Linked DNA regions of Homo sapiens. The protein of the gene in region 2 purifies or fractionates together with the protein of the main gene of each other region. This does not show direct contact. Each region holds a gene or a part of one and is shown on either strand. Other genes may lie near its edges.

Region 1 (3,656 bases), on a different chromosome or scaffold from region 2:
AAAAAAATTAAAAATTAGCCGGGCGTGGTGGCGGGCGCCTGTAGTCCCAACTTCTTGGGAGGCTGAGGCAGGAGAATGGTGTGAACCCAGGAGGCAGAGCTTGCAGTGAGTCAGGATCGTGCCACTGCACTCCAGCCTGGGCGACAGAGTGAGACTCTATCTCACAAAAAAAAAAAAAAAAAAAAAAAAAAAAAAAAAAAAAAGGTGTTACATCTGGTAGCCACTATTTGCCTTCAAACAAGTCCGTTAACCCTACTTTACCCAGGCGGGTTTTTTTTGTTTTGTTTTTGGTTTGTTTTTTTTTTGAGACCGAGTCTCACTCTGTCACCCAGGCTGGGGTACAGTGGTGCGATCTCAGCTCACTGCAACCTCCGCCTCCTGGGTTCAAGCGATTCTTCTGTCTCTGCCTCCCGAGTAGCTGGGATCACAGGCACATACCACCACGTCTGGCTAATTTTTGTATTTTTTTAGTAGAGACGGGGTTTCACCATGTTGGCCAGGCTGGTTTTGAACTCCTGACCTCAGGTGATCCGCCTGCCTCGACCTCCCAAAGTGCTTCGATTATAGGCATGAGCCACTGCACCCGGCCACCCAGGTGTTTTTATCTAGGCACTAGGTTGTGTGCTGCTTGAGGGCTGGCATGAGATTGTAACTTATTTGTGTTTGGATTCCCTTTGTCTAGACAGAGATGCTCAATATTTGTTGAAGCAATGAAGAATGGATCTGTAAAATGGGGACAGAGAACCAGATCTCTCAAGACCTTTCTAGACCTCATCTTCTATGTAGACAGATGAATCTGGGAACTAGTGTTGAATTTGAAGACACACACAGACCTGCTTCACAGCCCTTTTCTAGTCTTTAGTCATTTTATTATACTTTTTGCCATCTGTCTTGTATTGCCATTTGAAACCATTCTAGTGAATGAAATATAAATTATGTTCTTATTTGTTTCTAGGAAGCAAGATTTCCAGATGTAGCAAATGGGTTTATTGAGGAAATAATTCATTTTAAGAATTATTATGATCTGAATGTGTAAGTATACTACCATGCTTTTTTTGTGGTGGTGGTGGTGGTGGTAAAATATATGTAATAAAAAATTTACCATTTTAATCATTTTTAAATATACAATTTGGTGTTGTTAAGTAAATTCACATTATTATGCAACTATCACCACCATCCATCTTCAGAACTCTTTCATCTTCTCAAACTGAAACTCTGTCCGCATTAAACACTCACTCCCCATCCCCTTCCCAAGCCAGTGGCACCCACCATCCTACTTTCTTTCTATATGGATTTGGCTACTATCAGGGACCTCATGTGTTTGTTCTTTTCTGACTGGCTTATTTCACTTGGCATTATGTCTTTTTTAATGACCTTGTTCGTTCTGACATTAGTGATACACAGACTGTTTTCTGGATTTTATGGAATACTGCATGGTTATAGAATTATGATAACTGAGTTGTTTCTAAGCGTTGATACTACCTGTGTTTTAGTCAAGATGTTAAGACATTTTCTTCCCTACGATTGTAACAAAATGTTCTGCAACCACTCTGTTTGGAGAAATACATGGAAGCATTTTTTTTTTTTTTTTTTTTTTTTTGAGACGGAGTCTCACTCTGTCTCCCAGACTGGAGTCCAGTGGTGCGATCTCGGCTCACTGCAAGCTCCGCCTCCCAGGTTCAGGCCATTCTCCTGCCTCAGCCTCCCGAGTAGCTGGGACTACAGGCGCCTGCCAGCACGCCTGGCTAATTTTGTGTATTTTTAGTAGAGATGGGGTTTCACCATGTTAGCCAGGATGGTCTCGATCTCCTGACCTCGTGATCCACCCGCCTCGGCCTCCCAAAGTGCTGGGATTACAGGTGTGAGCCACCGCTCCCAGCCATATTTCTTAATTTTCATTATAAAAGGGATAAATACGGGCCAGACATATGGTTCACACCTTTAATTCTGGCACTTTGGGAGGCTGAGGCAAGAGGATTGCCTGAGTCCAGGAATTCAAGGCTGCAGTGAGCTGTGTTACGCTACTGCACTCCAGCCTGGGAGCCAGAGTGGGACCTTGTCTCTTATTTTAAAAAAATTTTTTATAAGTGGTAAATATGCTTTTTTAAAAAATAAGTTTTCCTGAAGAATATAAAATGAAAAATATACTCTTTCCCCTCCTTCTAATCTGCAGAGGTGAAATAATTGTAATTTTTTTTTTTTTTTTTTTTTTTTTTTTTTGGAGACAGTCTTATTCTGTTGCCCAGGCTAGAGTGCAGTGGTGCGATCTTGGCTTAAACAGCAGTCTCCACCTCCCAGGTTCAAGCAGTTCTCCTGCTCAGTCTCCTGAGTAGCTGGCATTACAGGCGTACTCCACCCTGTCCGGCTAATTTTTGTATTTTTAGTAGAGACAGGGTTTCATCATGTTGGTCAGGCTGGTCTTGAAACCCTGACCTCATGATCTGCTCACCTCCACCTCTCAAAGTGCTGGGATTACAGCCATAAGCCACCGTGCTCAGCCTGGTGGTAAATTTAAACAAAATAGTTCACTAAACACCTTTCCCCAAAGTTCCTATCTTATACTGTAGTTCTCAGTCAAGGTTGCAGGTGAGTTTCTTCCCTGCCAAGGCTGAGAAGGAAGGGCCCCTTTCCAGGTGCTTAGCCCAATGTAGGTACTTTTTTCTAATTTGTACAATGACACTGTTGGAGCCATTAGTGGCCTTGTCTGATCCCACCTCTGTACAGAGGCAACCACTGTCATCAGATTTATATTTATTTATTTATTATTATTATTATTATTATTATTTTTAATTGATCATTCTTGGTTGTTTCTCGCAGAGGGGGATTAGGCAGGGTCACAGGACAATAGTGGAGGGAAGGTCAGCAGATAAACAAGTGAACAAAGGTCTCTGGTTTTCCTAGGCAGAGGACCCTGGGGTCTTCCGCAGTGTTTGTGTCCCTGGGTACTTGAGATTAGGGAGTGGTGATGACTCTTAACAAGCATGCTGCCTTCAAGCATGTGTTTAACACAGCACATCTTGCACCGCCCTTATTCCATTTAACCCTGAGTGGACACAGCACATGTTTCAGAGAGCACTGGGTTGGGGGTAAGGTAATAGATCAACAGCATCCCAAGGCGGAAGAATTTTTCTTAGTACAGAACAAAATGGAGTCTCCTATGTCTACTTCTTTCTACACAGACACAGCAACAATCTGATTTCTCTATCTTTTCCCCACATTTCCCCCTTTTCTATTCGACACAGCTGTCATCGTCATCATGGCCCGTTCTCAATAAGCTGTTGGGAACACCTCCCAGACGGGGTGGCGGCCGGGCAGAGGGGCTCCTCACTTCCCAGAAGGGGCAGCCGGGCAGAGGTGCTCCCCACCTCCCGGACGGGGCGGCTGCCGGGCGGAGGGGCTCCTCACTTCCCGGACGGGGCGGCTGCCGGGCGGAGGGGCTCCTCACTTCTCAGATGGGGTGGCTGCGGGGCGGAGGGGCTCCTCACTTCTCAGACGGGGCGGCCGGGCAGAGACGCTGCTCACCTCCCAGATGGGGTCGCAGCCTGGCAGAGGCGCTCCTCACATCCCAGATGGGGCGGCGGGGCAGAGGCGCTCCCCACGTCTCAGATGATGGGTGGCCCGGCAGAGACGCTCCTCACTTCCTAGAAGGGATGGTG
Region 2 (3,656 bases):
ACAAGATGGATCCTCTGGACCCGCCCAAGTGTCCACCTAAACATGAGTTACCAACTAACAATGTTTTGTTTAGCATGCAAAGGGAGTGGTCTGGAATCTGGCCTTGCCCTGACATATTCTCCTTGGGCCTTTTTAAAAAAATAATTTGTGTTAATCTGTAGTTAAAAATTATAATAAGGACCTGACAAACACTACCTCAGTCAGATGATCAAGGTACACATAAATAGTGAAAGTCATGTTGATAGCATGCACCCTTCATATGATATGGCTAGAATGGCCCTGCACTTCTGTGATCTTCCTCCCCTAGACTCATCAGCTCGATCTAATCATAACAAAAGCATCAGATAAGTCCCCGCCCAGGGACATTCTACATAACCATTTCCCTTCCCAGTTATATTTTTCTCCACAATACTTTCCACCATCTAACATTCTATCTTTCAAAATGGGCAAGTATTTTAGCCTGGTTTGTTCATTGTTTTATCTGCAACTCAAATACAGTTCCTGAAATAAAATATCTGCCTAATAAATATTTAATGAATGAATGAATATAGCATTGCCTTATCCGTTTAATTGCCACATGGTATTTCATTGTGTGAACATAATATCGTTTATTTACCCAGACTACTACTCATAGGCATTTAGATTATTTCCGGTCTTTTGCTATTGCTAACAGCCTTTGCAATGAACATCCTTGTATACAGACATTTGCATATATGAGGGTGTGTCTTTAGGATCTACTTCTAGAATTGAAATTGCCAACTCCAAGTATATGTTTCCAATTGTGATAGATATTACACATTACCCTCCATCTTAGAGGTGGTGTTAATTTAGATTCCTGCCAGCAAAATTTAAGAGTGTTTGTTTCCCCATATCCTCAACTGCCTAACAGAATCAGTGAAAAATGGTATGACAGTGTAATTTTTGAGTGAGGTTGAGTATCTTTTCCTATGCTTTAAGAGCAATTTATGTTTCCTTTTTATGTGAACTGTCTGTTAATATATTTTTTCAATTTTTCTATTGGGTTATTTGTCTTTTCATTAATGCATATACCTGTTACATATTTATACCAAGTATGTATTAAATACTAACATATTGATGAAACAGAGCAAAAAGCCTAGAAATAGATCCAAATAACAGAAGAGTTAGTATGTGATACAGGAAGCCTATAAAATCAGTGAGCAAAAGACCATCCAATTAATAACGTTAGGGTAAATGGGTCTCCATTTAGAAAAAAATAATGTGGGTCTACACCTCACATTTTATACCTAAACAATTCCAGTGGGATAAGAAAATGAAATCATAAAAAATTACTAGGAAAAAGATGAGAAAATTGTTCATAAAACTGAAGTGTGGAAGATCCTTTATGCCTTACACTGCCCTGAGTGATCTCATTCATACCCATGGCTTCAATTGTCATGAATCCCAAATTCATTCCTCTGTCAGAACTCTCTTCTGAGCTTCAGACCCACATACTCAGCTGCCTACTGGACACCTCTACTTGAATATCACAAACTCAACTCAAAAGCAAACCTGTCAAATTTAATTACTAGTAGCCCTACCCCAAACAATCTTCCTGCTCAGTGAATGACACCCATCCCTCCAGGTGCACAGACCAGGAACCTAGAAGTCACTCTGATTGCATCCCTCTCCCTCACAACCTCTACCTCCCTTTATTCATCCATTGCTATGTCTCTCAAATGTACCTCCCAAATATCTCTTGAACGCGTTCTTTTCTATCTCTATTGCCACCACCCTAGTTCAAACTCCCATCATCTCATGACTGAAGTTCTGTGCCCTCTTGCCAGTGAACACTGTAGAATCAATCTAAACATGGTGCCACCCTGCTTAAAAACCTTCAAAGGCTCACATCACTTCTCAGATGAAGAGATTGGGGAGACGTTGGTAATAGGACACAAAATTTCAGTTAGGCAGGAGGAAAAAGTTCTATTGAAGAACTCTATTGTACAATATGGTGACTATAGTTAATAACAACATATTATACACTTGAAAATCACTAAGAGAGTCCATTTTAAGTGTTCTCATGACCAAAAAATGATAAGTATATGAGGTAATGCATATGTGAATTAGCTTGACTGAGGCATTCTACATGTATACATATTTCGAAACATCATGTTGTACATCATAAATGCATACACTTTTTAGTTGTCAATTTAATTAATATTTTTTAAACCTACTCTGGCCTTTTTTTCCTTTTTTGAGACGGGTGGTCTCTGTCCCCCATGCTAGAGTGCAGTGCGCAATCATGGCTCACTGCAGCCTCCACCTCCCAGTCTCAGGCGATTCTCCAGTCTCAGCCTCCCAAGTAGCTGGGACCACAAGCATGAGCCACCATGCCCCGCTATTTGTTTTTGTATTTTTTGTAGAGATGGGATCTCGCCACATGGCCCAGTCTGGTGTCCAACTCCTGAGCTCCAGTGATCCACCTGCCTCAGCTTCCCAAACTGCTGGGATTACAGGCGTGAGCCACTGTGCCTGGTCCACTCTGGTCTTTACTCAAGTCCCTGGCTTTCTCTCAGTCTCTTAAACTTATGTGCTTAGTAAGATGAGGACTGAAAAATGTCCACAGAACATAGTGACATGGAGATACTGAGAACCTCAACGACATCTCCATTAGCCACTTCCTCTGTGCCATTCCAGTCCTCTGGGCCCCACTGTGGCAAGCAGTCCTACCATGGCAAACATGAAAGCTGATGTGCCTTGTCTTAGACCCACACCATATCTCTCTGAATTCCTGTCCCAGGGCTTCTCTGGAGGTACAGCCTGGGAAACTCACGGGAATAGACACAGGGCCTTTGCACATGCTGCTCCCTTTTCCTGAAAAATTCCTTTGACATCTTGGTTGTGCCTTACACATGCCTACTCAACCTTAGGATTGCAGTTCAGGTTTCACTCCTTTTTTTTTTTTCTTTTTGAGACGGAGTTTCACTCTTGTTGCCCAGGCTGGAGTGCAATGGTGTGATCCTGGCTCACCACAACCTCTGCCTCCTGGGTTCAAGTGATTCTCCTGCCTCAACCTCCTGAGTAGCTGGGATTATAGTCATGCACCACCACGCCCAGCTAATTTTGTATTTTTAGTAGAGACAGTGTTTCTCTATGTTGGCCAGGCTGGTCTCGAACTCCCGACCTCAGGTGATCGGCCCGCCTCGGCCTAGGTTCCACTTCTTTATGGAAATCTTCCCCAGTTGCCTTGACTAGGCCAAAGTCCCCTCTTCTTAGGCTCTTACAGTGTCATGCACTTCTTTTTTATCACAGTGTAAACCTTGTAATGTTGTGTTTAAGTCATATCTGTTGTACCCATGAGACTGGGAGCCAATTCATATATTGTGAGTGTAATCGAACAGACTTCCCAGGCCACCCACTAGCTAATCAAGGCAGGGATGAGTCCGGAAAGTGACTTTGAAATCTAGCAATGTTGGAACTTGGAAATCACACAGGCTGAGATCTGCTCAGGTGCCTGAACAAATATAGCATTGCCTGTGGCGTCTCCCTCAAAGTGCCTTGCATGTCTGAGCCCCGTTGCCCCTTCCTTTGGTGTGCCTGTGTCTCCCGGTACAGATGTGAAGCCTGGAGACCTGTGGCTGCCTCTGCAGGAGCTCCATGTTTTCAAGCCATAAATCATCTTAGAATTCATAGCA

What was found.
Region 1: the proteins of TLR8 (region 2) and RNF216 purify together in Homo sapiens (affinity purification with western blotting, with the first as the bait; one study listed by BioGRID). This does not show direct contact.

Annotation. Positions count from the first base shown.
Region 1 is NC_000007.14:5,736,652-5,740,307, reverse strand, and holds part of RNF216 (E3 ubiquitin-protein ligase RNF216), read left to right. Parts: intron 1-955; coding exon 956-1,032; intron 1,033-3,656.
Region 2 is NC_000023.11:12,912,967-12,916,622, forward strand, and holds part of TLR8 (toll-like receptor 8 isoform 2 precursor), read left to right. Parts: intron 1-3,656.